4 linked regions of the Homo sapiens genome follow. The protein of the gene in region 4 purifies or fractionates together with the protein of the main gene of each other region. This does not show direct contact. Each region holds a gene or a part of one and is shown on either strand. Other genes may lie near its edges.

Region 1 (3,500 bases), on a different chromosome or scaffold from region 4:
GTAATGTTGAAACTACAATTACCAGGCCCTATGGAATTTTGCTTAAAAGTAGGAAACTATAAAACTTTTTTATCAGAGTAGTTAACATTTTTTTCAAATTTATGGATTACTTATGATACTTTCAATTAGGAAAATGACTAAAACTGTCACTAAAATTTAAAAAAAACTTCATGTGAGTTAATGGGTGCAGCACACCAGCATGGCACATGTATATATATGTAACTAACCTGCACACTTTGCACATGTACCCTAAAACTTAAAAGTATAATAATAATAAAAAAAGAAAATGATATTTTATTAAAATCATCAAAAAAAAAAAACTTTATGTGAAACAGCTGTAACGTCAACACTGCCAGTAGGTGTTTAAATTGGTACAACTACTTTGTAACATTGTTGGCAGCATTACTAAAACTGGACATATGCATACCCTGTGGTCTCACAATTCTGTCCTAGGTATATATACCCATCAATGGTTACATGTTCACCAAAAGACATACACTAAAAATGTTTACAGCACCAGCATCAATCAAAGCCCCAAACTGGAAACGATCCAATTGCAACAGATGAAAGAAGAAATCATGTTATAGTCACACAATGAAATACTGTAAAGAGAATGAATGACCTCCAACTTCACACAACAATATAGATGAATCTTATAAACAATGTTGAGTGAAAAGGGCCGACACAAAAGAGTACACACTATGCACTTCCTGTTGTAATCACAGTGGTGGTTACCCTTGGGAGAGAGGTGATTGGCTAGAAGAGGACATGGGAGGGTGTTTCTAGAGTGCTAGTAATGTTCTGTTTATTTAATTTTTTTAGAGACAGAGTCTTGCTCTGTCACCTAGGCTGGATGGAGTGCAGTGGTGTGATCATGGCTCACTGCAGCCTTGAACTCCTGGGCTCAAGCCATTCTCCCACCTCAGCCTCCTCAATAGCTGGGAGTACAGGCACATGCCACCATGCCTGGCTAATTTATGTGCACTTTTATACACAGGCTGAGTATCCCTTATCCAAAATGCCTGGGACCAGAAGTGTCTCAAATTTCAAATTTTTTCTGATTTTGGAATATTTTGATTATACTTACCAGTTTAACATCCCTAATCCAAACATATGAAATCCTCCAATAAGCATTTCCTTTGAGCATCATGTCAGCACTCAGAAAGTTTTGGATTTTGGAGCATTTCGGGTTTGGGATTTTGGATTAAAGATACCCAACCTGGCCAGGTGTGCTGCCTCACACCTGTAATCCCAGCACTTTGGAAGGCCAAGGTGGGTGGCTCACCTGAGGTCAGGAGTTTGAGAACAGCCTGGCCAACATGGCAAAACTCGTCTCTACTCAAAATACAAAAATTAGCCAGGGGTGGTGGTACGCGCCTATAATCCTAGCTACTCAGGAGGCTGAGGTAGGAGAACTGCTTGAATCTGGGAGGCAGAGGTTGTAGTGAGTTGAGATTGTGCCACTGCACTCCAGCCTGGGCGACAGAGCGAGACCTTGTCTCAAAACAAAACAAAACAAACAAAAATAAATAAATAAAGATACTCAACCTGTATGTATATTTTAATAAGTTAAATCAACATTGATTTTCCTCAATTATCAAAGTAATACAGTGCTTATTCTACTGTTTGTATCATAAAATACTGTACAGCACTTAAGAAAAGTTTAAAGACATTTTGAAGGTATAAAAAAATTCCCTTAATTATGTCACTCAAAAGTGACATTATATGTTATTAGGCTTTTACATGAATTTAGTGTGAATATTTATGAACACCTGTGAAAAGATAGATTAAGGAGATAAAAACTAAAACACAGTCTTTTTTTTTTTTTTTTTTAAGACAGTCTCGCTGTTATCCAGGTTGGAGTGCAATGGCGGGATCTCGGCTCACTGCAACCTCCACCTCCTAGGTTCAAGCAATTCTCCTGCCTCAGCCTCCTGAGTAGCTGAGATTACAGGCGCCCACCACCAAGCCTGGCTAATTTTTTGTATTTTTAGTAGAGATGAGGTTTCACTATGTTGGCCAAGCTGGTCTCGAACTCCTGACCTTGGGTGATCCACCTGCCTCGGCCTCCCAAAGTGCTGGGATTACAGGCGTGAGCCACTGTGCCTGGCCTAAAATACTGTCATATAAAAAATTATGTTATATATTTCTATGAGCTCCATAATATGGTATCTTACACATACTGCTTTGAAAAATTTCATATACCAAAGACACCTTTCTACATCAATAAATGTACCTCTACCATGCCATTTTAACTCCTATATAATCACATATGATGGTATAAATTTATCCAATTCTCTATTAGTTGGATACATGTTCACTTTCACTTTTCATTGATATTAAACCTTTGATGAAAATACATCCACTACTCTTAATATAATCCAATTTAAAAAGATTTTGTCCAACTAAGAGGCAAATAATGATGTCTATTTTTTGAATTTGCAATTCTTTGATAACTAGTAAGGCTGAACATTTTGTATATGTTTACTGGCCACTTATATTTCTTTGTTAATTTTTTTTTTTTGAGACGGAGTCTCACTGTCACCAGGGTGGAGTGCAGTGGCGTAATCTCAGCTCACTGCAACCTCCGCCTCCTGGGTTCCAGTGATTCTCCTGCCTCAGCCTCCCAAGTAGCTGGGACTACAGGCACGTGCTTCCACACCCAGCTAATTTTTGTATTTTTAGTAGAGATGGGGTTTCACCATGTTGGCCAGTATGGTCTTGATCTCCTGACCTCGTGATCAGCCAGCCTCAGCTTCCCAAAGTGCTGGGATTACAGGCATAAGCCACTGCGCCCAGCCATTAAGTACATTTTTAATATGTTTACTTGTGACTTATAATACAAATAAAATTATCAGCTGAAAGACTCTAAAAGAAAATAAAATCCTTTTGAGGACTAGTTAACCTGGAGGAATTCCCCTTTAAAAATTATTACTGTAATAAAATGGTAGGAGTCCCGACTGCTGTGAACAGTTTTTATTTCCCATAATTTTTGTTAGAAACTTTTGGAGGAGTCCTGAAACTAATCAAAATAGTTTATTGATGCGAACAGTGAATATTTCCTTTGATGATATTTTTTACAAAATAAAAGTTGTTAAACATATCCTATTATGACTTGTCACAATGTCACCACATTACATACTTACCATGCCACTTTCCCTTGTAGACTGTTCCAAATGATCCAGATCCAATTCTTTGTCCCACTGTAATCTGCCCATCAGGAATCTCCCAATCATCACTCGAGTCCCGTCTACCAAGTGTTTTCTTGATAAAAACAGTAAAAAAGTCAAGTCAAGCCAAACAGAAAAAGAAAACCTTATGTTTCACCCTAAGTACATTACCTTATGCCTGAGAGGGATACAGGAAGAGATCCCCTTAAGAAAAATTCTCTGGAAGAATAGTAGTTAAAAGTATGACTCTTAAAATACAAAACTTAAATTTAAGACTGAAGTCAATATTAGGATGGAAAAAATTTATTTTTATTTTTTATTTTATTATAC
Region 2 (3,500 bases), on a different chromosome or scaffold from region 4:
GACGCAACTCAATACACTGAATGCTGAGACACCTCTCCCTCTGCCTCTGCAACCACGAACAGGGTCCAAGAAAGAGGAGCAGGCAGCTGCAAAGCAAGCTCTTGCTCTCTTCTCCCAAGAAGATGCTCTCAGCACACCTGACTACCCAGATGTGCAAGGAGACATGCTTATAAAGCTGACTCAGACTGGCCAGGTGTGGAGGCTAACACAGTAATTCCAGCACTTTTTAGGAGGCCGAGGCAGGCAGGTGGTCAGGAGTTCGAGACCAGTCTGGCCAACATGGCGAAACCCCGTCTCTACTAAAAATACAAAAAAAATTACCCAGGCTTGGTGGCGCGCACCTATAATCCCAGCTACTCAGGAGGCTGAAGCAGAAGAATCGCTTGAACCCAGGAGGTGGAGGTTGTAGTGAGCCAAGATCGCACCACTGCACTCCAGCCTGGGTGATAGAGTGAGACTCTGTCTTCCAAAAAAAAAAAAAAAAAAAAAAAAAGGCTGACTCAGACAGAGACACAAACATGGAAATGCGCCCTGGTCCCCCGGTGGAGAGTGGGCTGCGGGAGGGGCCTGGGGCCCCCTTCACGGCAGGGAGACAGGTCTGACTTTTCCTGTCGAGCTGTATTCTCCATCTAGGGCAGCAAGAGGGAGGAATGTGCAGGGCAGCCGTGATGCAGCACGGACATCTTCAGCAGAACCAAACACAGAGCTTCAAGAGTGCACCCCAATAACTGGCTTTGCACCTCTGTGAGCACCCCAAGTCCCCTGGGCGGATGGGCACTGAGGGGATCAAAGCATAGAAGAAGCTTTGTCAGCCACTGAAGAAAACCTCATTATAGACATTCTTTGACCACCTTCTGAAATGTCTGTTAGCAAGTTATGATTTAAGAACAACCATGTGTACACAGCCTGTCTACACAGTATGCAGGCGTGACAGCAAATCGGACCTGGCCTGATCTGCCAGTGAGAGCAGAGGCCAACACGGGAGCCACGCTAAGCAGCAGATCAACACTACACACGGGAAAGCCGAGGCCAGGCCGAGAGGGGCCACACAGCCCCAAGGTGCCTAAGAAGGGCAGCAGGTGACCAGGCAGGGGCCAGGCCAAACCAACAGTGACGAGGCTGCTGGCAGAAGACACAAAGCAACACATTTGGGAAAATTACGAGGTCCACTGAAGATGTGGCCAGTCAGGACGTCAGGGGATTAGCCTTTGTGGCCGTCCATCACCTAGCCATGGGAAGGGCGTCCACGTGACCAGCAGTGCCCCACAGTAGGCCCTAGCTGGCCTGTCACAAGAATGAATCGGGAGCATTTGAAAGCTTGATGTTTTCTGGAAAAACAATACTGACACTAGATAACAATCAGCAGTTACCTTAAATTATGTTTCTAAAGACAAAGAGCTCACCTGTGTCTCACCCAATACATCCCGGTTTTCAATAGGAAATGGATTTTGCGAAATAGAAAAAGTGTAAACTGGATCCTTGGGGAAAGTTGTTGTGATCTAATGAAGAAAAACACAAACCCATGATAAATGAGGCTGAAAATGGTGTGGCCGACTCCCAGCCAGCCCAGAGCATCTCCCAGAGCCCAAATTAACGACTCCTAGCAATTCTGAGAATGTTCTACAAGCTCTCCATCAAAGGGAACCGTTATCTATTAGTGTCATCTCTAAACGAACACTTGGAAACTCCGCCATCCTGGAGACAAACTACACCATATCCGGGCAGCCTCCGGCCTGTGCACCGGCCTCGACGTCGGACAAAAAGGGCACTGGGACTCCCCTCGTGGCACAGCTTCCCTTCAGAGTCACACAGGTTCTCTCCCTCTGCTATGGAGGAACGAAAGGCTGGTTTGGCCCCTTGGCCAGGTGACAGGAAAGGAACGGAAGGGCCAGGAGGCCGCCCCAGGAGCTGACTTTGCTCAAGAGAGATTCGTGTCATTGGATTCGGAGGGCAAATGAGCAATCAGCCAGCTTTCAAGACACAAAGCACCCTTCAGCAGCTCACTAAGCCCCTTCTGAATGCTGGGAGCCACTCCACGGAGCTGTGGGCTTTTCCAGGCAGGGGTGAATGTAAGGCCCTTGAGGAACACAGGGTTCAGCTCTTCTCTCTCCCTCAGAGCTGATACCCAAAGGCCAGCTAAGTCCTTCAGTCCTTCACTGGCTCAGACAGGCCTTAATGACAACAGAGGGCACTTTGCACCTAAGATATAATCAATAGATGCTACAGGGACAGTGGTAAATGTGCAAGAATCAATAGAAATACCACTTTTATTCTTCGTGACAGACACCCCTCCCCAAAGCAGCACCGAGTTGAGTTGATGCTGCTTTTCTCTGCAACACAACAGCAGCAGCAGAGGTCACACCTCTTCCAGATTTAGGGGAACTATTCTGGTTCCTTTGGGACTATTTCTAAAGAATGAGTGTGGTTCTGGTCTGTTTTCTGCATCAGCAAAGGCAGTGAGTTGTTGAGCTAGCTGGCCCAGGATTTGCTGTGCCAGCGCCAGCCGCTGTGGAAGGACAGCTGAGCCACCAGCAGCATCTCTGGCCTGAGCTGGCCCTTCATGGGCAAGCGGCGGGGTGGGTCATGAAGACTCGGGCCGCGGTGCCACGTGTCGGCTACATGGCCTCGTCAGTTAGGGATCCTGGGCCTCACTTTACTCTTCCTCAGGATGAAGATGATCGGAGTACTCGCCTCCTGGGTGCCCAGCACGGGGCTGGTACACATAGTGTTGGTACACACAGTGCTGGGTCCCAGCTGAAGACAGGGGAGGTGCTGACCTCCTGCAGAGACAAAAGCCTGGCCTGCTCAGGCGCGTCCCTTGGGAAGGCCTAGAAATGAAGAAGGCGGCACCCCCAGAACACGTGCTAGTGAGTGAGCTAGTGGGACTGACGGGGGCTCTTGCTGGCCTTGTAACTGGCCCTTGGAGGGGAACAGAACCAAAGTCCACACAGCCCATCCCAGATGTCCCAAGGAAGGGCATCAGCTCCCATCTTACACTGAAGCCATTTCCCTACCCTACCCATCGTCTATCAGCCAGATGATGCCCCCAGAACCCACAAAGAAACCCCAGTAACACTGGCTGGTGCCTTTTCCTGCCTGCCCAGCCATCCCATCCCAAGGTTTAAGAACCTTGGCTGAGGCCAGCGCCTGTGGCCCAGGGCTGGGCATGGAGCTTGACACACCTCTCTGGGCACCTGCTCTCAAGGACTCCCCATGCCTCACTTCCACAGGGTCAAGGAGCCTGGGCATCACAGAGCAGAATGCTCTCCCACAAACAAGTACTTCTGAAAAACTGCACTAAGGCAAAAACTTAACTTCCTTTATAAAAGAAGAGGAAAGAAGTGGGGAGGCTGCTTGGGGTAGAAGACCTGAGAAAGCTGGTTTTAAATCATGCCTGCTCCTCCTGGGTGCATGCTCCATCAATCTGTTTTCATCTTAATTACACCCTAGGTAGTCTAAAAACCAGATGCCTTCACGGCCTAGGTAATAAATATGTTCTC
Region 3 (3,454 bases), on a different chromosome or scaffold from region 4:
TTGCCCAGGCTGGAGTGCAGTGGCGCAATCTCAGCTCACTGCAAGCTCCGCCTCCTGGGTTCACGCCATTCTCCTGCCTCAGCCTCCCAAGTAGCTGGGACTACAGGTGTCCGCCACCACACCCGGCTAATTTTTTGTATTTTTAATAGAGACAGGGTTTCACCGTGTTAGCCAGGATGGTCTCGATCTCCTGACCTTGTGATCTGCCCGCCTTGGCCTCCCAAAGTGCTGGGATTACAGGCGTGAGCCACCGCGCCCAACCTAGCTTTCAGAAATTATACCAGTAATACCTACAGCATACAGAAAACAACAGTAAAAACAGAACTAAAAGTAAATGTTTCTTGCCCATCCTACTCCTATTGCCATATTCCAAATGTAACAACCTTTAAAACCCTCCTGTTTTCTTTGTTCTCACGGAATTCTAATATGCTTGTATCTATTGATTCCCTGCTATAAAAGATGAAGAACTGAGCTCATTTGTACCTCCTTTCTACTCTGCTAGCATTAAGTTACATTATTTTAAATTCTATTAATTTCAGCCGGGCACAGTGGTTCACACCTGTAAGATGGCTCATGGCCATCTTTTGTCTCCTCACTCTCCACGCTGCCTAAGAGATCTCACCCATGACTACACTTATGAGTGGTTGCTTGCTCATGATGTTCCAATAAGAGGGCAAGGGAGGAACACCTCATGGACAATAGATTTGTTTTCTGCATGTCTTCTCTTGGATGTCCTGCAGAGATCTCAAATTCCAAAATTCCCTCTCTGTGCACTCCCTAAGTCAGCAACGGCACCCTTATCCATCTAGCCACCCTGTGCCAAAAACCCCAGAGTTAGTGTCTAGGCTGTTCCTTGCTCCTCCACCTGCTCCATATCACAGCAATCTTCAAATCCCATCAGGCTTTAGTCGTTTCCTGCTTTGACTGCTCTAACAGTCTCCTCACTGATCTCCCTGCCCCCAGTGTTGTCCCTCTCCAGTCCATTCTTTACCCTCTTATCCCTATGATCTTCCCAAAATGCAAATCTGGATATGTGACCTCTCATTAAAGGCTTCCCTGACTGGGTGTGGTGGCTGACGCCTGTAATTCCAGCACTTTGGGAGGCCGAGGCAGTGGATCACTTGAGGTCAGGACTTAGAGACCAGCCTGACCAACATGGTGAAACCCCGTCTCTCTTAAAAATACAAAAATTAGCTGGGCGTGGTGGCGGGCACCTATAATCCCATCTACTCGGGAGGCTGAGGCAGGAGAATCGATTGAACCCAGGAGGGAGGTTGCAGTGAGCTGAGATCGTATCACTGTACTCCAGCCTGGGCAACAGAGCAAGACTCTGTTTCAAAAAAATAATAAATAAAATAAACAAAGGCTTCCCTAAGCCTTAGGATAAAATCCATATTTCTAGCATACTATTCAACAGCTCCTATGATCTTGCTCTGCCTGCCTCTCTGATCTATAATAAATATGCCTTCTCTCTCCTCCATTTTTTTTCTCAGCCTAAAGAGTTTTCCTGCTCTTCTTTTCGTGGTCCGAAAGAACCAGTAAATCTACCCTTAGGCTGGGGCGCGGTTCTCACGCTTGTAATCCCAGCACTTTGGGATGCCGAGGCGGGCAGAATGCTTGAGTCCAGGAGTTCGAGACCAGCCTGGATGACATGGTAAAACCTCATCTCCACAAAAAAATACAAAAATTAGCTAGGTGTGGTAGTGTGCACCTGTTATCCCAGCTGAGGTAGGAGGATTGCTAGAGCCCAAGAGTTGAGGCTGTAGTGAGCCCTGATTGCACCACGGCACTCCAGCCTGGGCGACAGAGTAAGACCCTGTCTAAAAAAAAAAAGGCCGGGTGCAGTGGCTCACACCTATAATCCCAGCACTTTGGGAGGCTGAGGTGGATGGATAACCTGAGGTCAGGAGTTCAAGACCAGCCTGGCCAACATGGCAAAACCCCGTCTCTACTAAAAATTGGTGGGGTATGGTGGCACGCGCATGTAATCCCAGGTACGCGGGAGGCTGAGGCAGGAGAATCGCTTGAACCTGGAAGGCTGAGGTTGCAGTGAGCTGAGATTGCGCCACTGCACTCTAGCCTGGGCAATAAGAGTGAGACTCTAGTCTCAAAAAAAAAAAAAAAAAATCTACCCTCAAGCTCAGGGGTCATCTAAGGATGCCTTTCTATCTCCAGCCTTTCCCCAGCCTGAACCCTTCCTTTCTTCCCCACAGTGCCTTTTACCTCAGTTATCATTCTGAAAGTTTCATCTGGTTATTTTTCTCCCAAAACAGAGTGTGAGCTCCATAAAGATAAGAAGTCAATCTTTTGGCCGGGTGCGGTGGCTCACACCTGTATTTCCAGCACTTTGGGAGGCCGAGGTGGGCGGATCACCTGAGGTCAGGAGTTCGAGACCAGCCTGGCTAACATGGTGAAACTCCATCTCTACTAAAAAAAATGCAAAAATTAGCCAGGTGTGGTGGCGGGCACCTGTAGTCCCAGCTACTTGGGAGGCTGAGGCAGGAGAATGGTGTGAACCCAGGAGGCGGAGCTTGCAGTGAGCCAAGATAGCACCACTGCACTCCAGCCTGGGCGACAGAGCAAGACTCTGTCTCAAAAAAAAAAAAAAAAGTCAACCTTTTATCTCATCTCTGAATGCTCTGTGCCTGGTTTCCTGCCTGGCCATGGCAGAAATCTGCTAAATATTTGAAGAATGAATTTACAGTACCTGCAACTCTAGGCTCTCAGTGTGTGGTTTCCTGATGAGAAAGGAGGCACTCTCATCCCAGACAGGGGCTGAAGTTTGCGAAATAGTCTGGTGGAGATGAGGGCTTATGATCAGTAGCTGATACTCTTATTTCTCTTATCCCTCCCATTTTTACCCTGCAGCATTTCTTCATACCTTGGTTTTATGAGAACTATCTCCCACAGTGAGAGTAGCATAAGGGCTGAGGTGCTTGGTGCCTTTTCGCAGCTAGAAAGACAATACTGTGTTAGTCTTAAATTTGGACCTAGTTAGGCAGATCCCCCTCACAAATTATATCCACAGCCAGCAGCCATGTCTCCATTATTACTTGGCAGCCACTACCCGTGGCCTTGAACAGACAACTTTTCCCACCCCTGCACTACCCTCAGAAAGAGAGGGGCCATTTTTCTTATTCTAAATACTCCAGGACCATCCAAACCGGAGGAAGGTGGAAGAAGGGCCAGGAAGTTATGGGGCATGGGGAGCGGGATCTCACCGGGAGGTCCTCTGCCCGCTCCATATAGATGGATAGCAGGGCCGCAGCCAGCTCCGCACTCTTCTGAGTCTGGATCAAACTATTCACCTGCAGCACCTGTGGAGGGGCACACGGGGCTGGGGAGTGGTAACTGACACCTTGGGTTCTGGCATGTGCCTTGAACGCTAAGAGAAGAGCTCATCCTGCCCCACCTTGGGTCCCTTCCTTCCTCAAGTCTCCTGCCCTACCTCCTC
Region 4 (3,500 bases):
CTGAGGAGACTTCCCCCCGGGACAGCACCTGCAGTGATACCAGCCCCCCTGCCCGGGAAGAGGGTATGATCGAGAGGAAACGGGCAGGTGAGATTAGGGGTTGGGAAGGAAAATCCCTTTTCCCCCAGTGGCCTAGGGAGTTTCCAAATGGACCTCAGACCTTGGGATTTGGCATGTGTTTTGTGTGGGGCTTCCCTAAGCATAAAGATGTGCCTTTATGAGGGCAAAGTGTTGAGGCCGAATTTCTCTGTCCTCTGGCTGGGTCTCCGATAGCTTCCCGAACATCAGATCTTTGGAGTGAGTATTCCACCCAGGGTAGGGTGTGATGGGCAGTACATGGGGCTGTATATTAGATGCCCTGGTTTTAAATCCAATCTTGGCCACTGTGCTGTGTGCCCTGAGGCCAGTCACTCACCCTCTCTAGGCACCTGTAAAATGGGAATAATATCATATCCTACCCTCAAGACTTTGAGAGACCCAAATGAATGACAGATATGAAAGTACTTTGGGAAGTCAGAACCACATTACAAATGTCAGGTACTGTCAATATTAGCCAGTGAGCAGGGCAGCTGTTCTTCCAAGGTACATCAACACATGAATCACTTCTTTGCAAACGTTCGAGTCTGGTATCTTGGCCTAATAAATGTGATAACGTAATAGCAGTGGGAGGCTGCCTTCTGTTCAGCACAAGCTAGATTGAGTCCTGGGCTCAGGGTTTGACATGGGATGGAAAGGAACTGAGGAAGGAGTGGCCCAGACAGTGTTGGGAAGGGGAGGAACATGGAAGAAACTGATATCTGTGCCCTGGAAGGGGAGAGCCTGGGCATCTGAATCCTGTCCCTCAAGGATGGGAAAGGCCATCCCAAGAAAGCTCATCTCCGCCCCTGAATCAGGAGTTGGGAAATGGAAAACTGCTTAATCCCCAGCAATGTGAACTTCGGTTGGAGAGAGGGAAAGGCATCCTGACTGTTATGTGTAGGCTGGGCTCCTGGGAAAGGTATGGAATTCCTGGTATGGGGAGGTGGACTGGAGCCAGGAGACTAAGGCTAAGCTCTGGGGCAAAGTGGGACTGACCCTGCAGGAGAGGCGCCTAGCTTGGGACACTCACCTATGGCCTTTGGCATGTGCCTATCATACATGCCCGGGTCCACTCATTCCCGGGGGTCATGTCAGGGGCCTGGGTCTTCCGAAGGCCTTGATAGAAGAGCATCCATCAGGCTTCCCATTTCTCCCCCACCAAAGTGGCACTGCTTCCTAATTTGTGAATATTAATTTCCCGGGGAATTTCAGCTGCACTCTGAGGCCCATTCAGGGTATAAAGAGAATCCCAGTATTAAAACGTAGAAGTCCTTAGGTCAGCTCCTCAAGGTACACTTAACTGTGGCCCTATCAGCCTTGCCCTTAGCCTGACCCTGAGAGCAGCCACAGTAAGGGCATGCCTGGCCAATGGCAGGGCCACTGTCTTCAGATAGAGTAGCACCCCCTTCTCCAGATCCAAGGGCCCAGCTTCACCTGTGCTACTGCCTGACAGAGGCAAGGGGTGGAGACTAAGCCCACAGCACTTGAGAGCTGCGTCGGAGCTTTTCTCATGGTATCCTCCCCAGACAAAGGTCAGCCCTAATTGCGGAGGGCTCTAGGTCTTTTGGGCACAGGACTCTGGCCTAGATGCCTAGTGAACAAGAATTACTGTCACCCAGGGAGAAAGCATGGACGCCACTTTATAGGTTTAACCCTTGCCGTGCCACCCCTCACCGCTAGCAAGCCAGGTATTCTCCACGGGAAAGCAGACTCATCCAAGAGTCAGCCTGAGCCAGACCCAAGGAGGAAGTAGAGTCTGCGGACTGCTTTGGGCTGATCTCCTGGGGCAGCCGTCAGCAGGCAGATTTGGGGAGTCACTGCTGTAGGGCATCTGCACTGTGGCTTCATCCCTGAGGAGAGACCCTAAGCTGAGGCTGGGAGGGAAGTCAGTCTTCACACCAAGTGTAGCATCCCTGCCTTTTGCCCTCTGCTCCCCGGCTCTGGCAATGCTGCCTCTCAGGTAGATGCTAGGCCCCTCCCAAGGTTGAGGAAGTAACACTCTGGGTCTGGGAGACCCCAGATGACCCATGAGCAAGGCTCAGGTCGCCCCTCATGCAGCCTCCTTTCTGTGTGCCCCCTTCAGACTCTAAGCAGAATGGCGATGCCAACGCAGTGCTGTCTGATGAGGAGGGAGCTGGCCTCACCCAACCCCTGGCCTCCTCCCCGACCCCCGAGGAGCGCCGGGCCCTGCGACGCTCCACCACTCGAGACAGAAACAAGAAGGCAGCTGCCTGCTTCCTGCTCAGCACTGGGGACTATGCCTGCGCCGATGGTAGTGTCCGGAAAGGTATGGCTTCCCAAGCTGGACAGGTGGGGAGCCCCCACAGAGCTGAGTCTCCCGAGTCCCCCACCAAGAGCCTGAGGTCCCCCCCTCCCCTGAGACCGTGGCCGCCATCTCCTCTGCCTTGGATGCACCCCCACTTTTAGAATGGGTACCTGATCTCCCAGTCCCTGGATTAGAAAGGTCTTCTCCATCTCAGAAGGGCACACGGCTCCCATCCAGCTGCCCATGGGAAAGAGCAGCGCTAGAGGGTAAAGGGTGCACAAGGCCAGGGTCCCTGCCCCGTGCTTCCATTGCATCTCTTTTTCTACCTCTGGTTCCCGCTGCTGCCTTCAGGCCCCATTCCACAGGGTCACTGCCAGCCTCTCCCTAGGCCTCCCTTAAACACAGCTAAGGCTTCCCAAGTAGGTGACCCCTCGAGGTGCCAACAACGTTCAAGAGTCAGGGAGCCCCACACAGGCCCTGCATCCTCCCATCCTGCGCCAGGGGTCCTGGAGCACAGGATGGGCAGACTTCCGTCTGCAAGCACCTAGAGGGTGACTGTCCTCTTGAGGCAGTGCCAGAGATGACCAAGGGGTGGGATAGGTGGGCAGGAAGAGTGGGTCCCATCTGAGGAATGTTCTGAGTATTTGGAGAGAGAGGGAGCAGCCCATCCTCTGCTTGTCGGAAAAGGCTGAAATTCCATCCCCAGGCCCCAAGCCTGCGGCAAGGCAAGGGCAGAGGTTGGGCTGTGGAGCTAGGGATTCCTGGCCTCGGAAAGCGGGTAGGAATGATCAAGGATGGTGGAGGGCCCGCGGTGGCTGAGAACCAGGGGTCTTAGGACCAGGCCCTCCTACCCAGTTTTCGATCACTTATTCGTCTCTCTTGCCCTGTCCCTGTTACCTAACCTCACTCAATGTTCTACCTCTTTCTAGAATAAACCCTGACTCCCTCCAAAACAGAGCTCTTCCCCAGGTTCTCTGCCACTTCTTAACCAGCTGGATTTCCCATCCCCCACTTCCCTCTGTCCCCAAACCCCAGACCCAAACTAGGTTGAGTGAGGAAGGGGCAGTGGCAGCTACAGGAATAGCCTGTGATGCCTCTGTCCCTCTGAAGATGTCCCAATGTCCCGTGGCCTGCCAGCCCATGCAGGCTCTGTGGG

The links. The genes of interacting proteins can lie anywhere in the genome.
Region 1: the proteins of KCNC4 (region 4) and BRAF purify together in Homo sapiens (affinity purification with mass spectrometry; 2 studies listed by BioGRID and IntAct, with this or other methods). This does not show direct contact.
Region 2: the proteins of KCNC4 (region 4) and NPLOC4 purify together in Homo sapiens (affinity purification with mass spectrometry; 2 studies listed by BioGRID and IntAct, with this or other methods). This does not show direct contact.
Region 3: the proteins of KCNC4 (region 4) and ESYT1 purify together in Homo sapiens (affinity purification with mass spectrometry; 2 studies listed by BioGRID and IntAct, with this or other methods). This does not show direct contact.

What each region holds. Positions count from the first base shown.
Region 1 is NC_000007.14:140,778,430-140,781,929, forward strand, and holds part of BRAF (serine/threonine-protein kinase B-raf), read right to left. Parts: intron 3,265-3,500; coding exon 3,147-3,264; intron 1-3,146. UniProt on the Homo sapiens protein: Protein kinase involved in the transduction of mitogenic signals from the cell membrane to the nucleus. Phosphorylates MAP2K1, and thereby activates the MAP kinase signal transduction pathway. Phosphorylates PFKFB2.
Region 2 is NC_000017.11:81,567,613-81,571,112, forward strand, and holds part of NPLOC4 (nuclear protein localization protein 4 homolog), read right to left. Parts: intron 1,500-3,500; coding exon 1,404-1,499; intron 1-1,403. UniProt on the Homo sapiens protein: The ternary complex containing UFD1, VCP and NPLOC4 binds ubiquitinated proteins and is necessary for the export of misfolded proteins from the ER to the cytoplasm, where they are degraded by the proteasome.
Region 3 is NC_000012.12:56,138,267-56,141,720, reverse strand, and holds part of ESYT1 (extended synaptotagmin-1), read right to left. Parts: coding exon 3,449-3,454; intron 3,318-3,448; coding exon 3,222-3,317; intron 2,954-3,221; coding exon 2,882-2,953; intron 2,795-2,881; coding exon 2,708-2,794; intron 1-2,707. UniProt on the Homo sapiens protein: Binds calcium (via the C2 domains) and translocates to sites of contact between the endoplasmic reticulum and the cell membrane in response to increased cytosolic calcium levels.
Region 4 is NC_000001.11:110,223,814-110,227,313, forward strand, and holds part of KCNC4 (voltage-gated potassium channel KCNC4), read left to right. Parts: coding exon 1-87; intron 88-2,161; coding exon 2,162-2,365; intron 2,366-3,500. UniProt on the Homo sapiens protein: Voltage-gated potassium channel that opens in response to the voltage difference across the membrane, forming a potassium-selective channel through which potassium ions pass in accordance with their electrochemical gradient.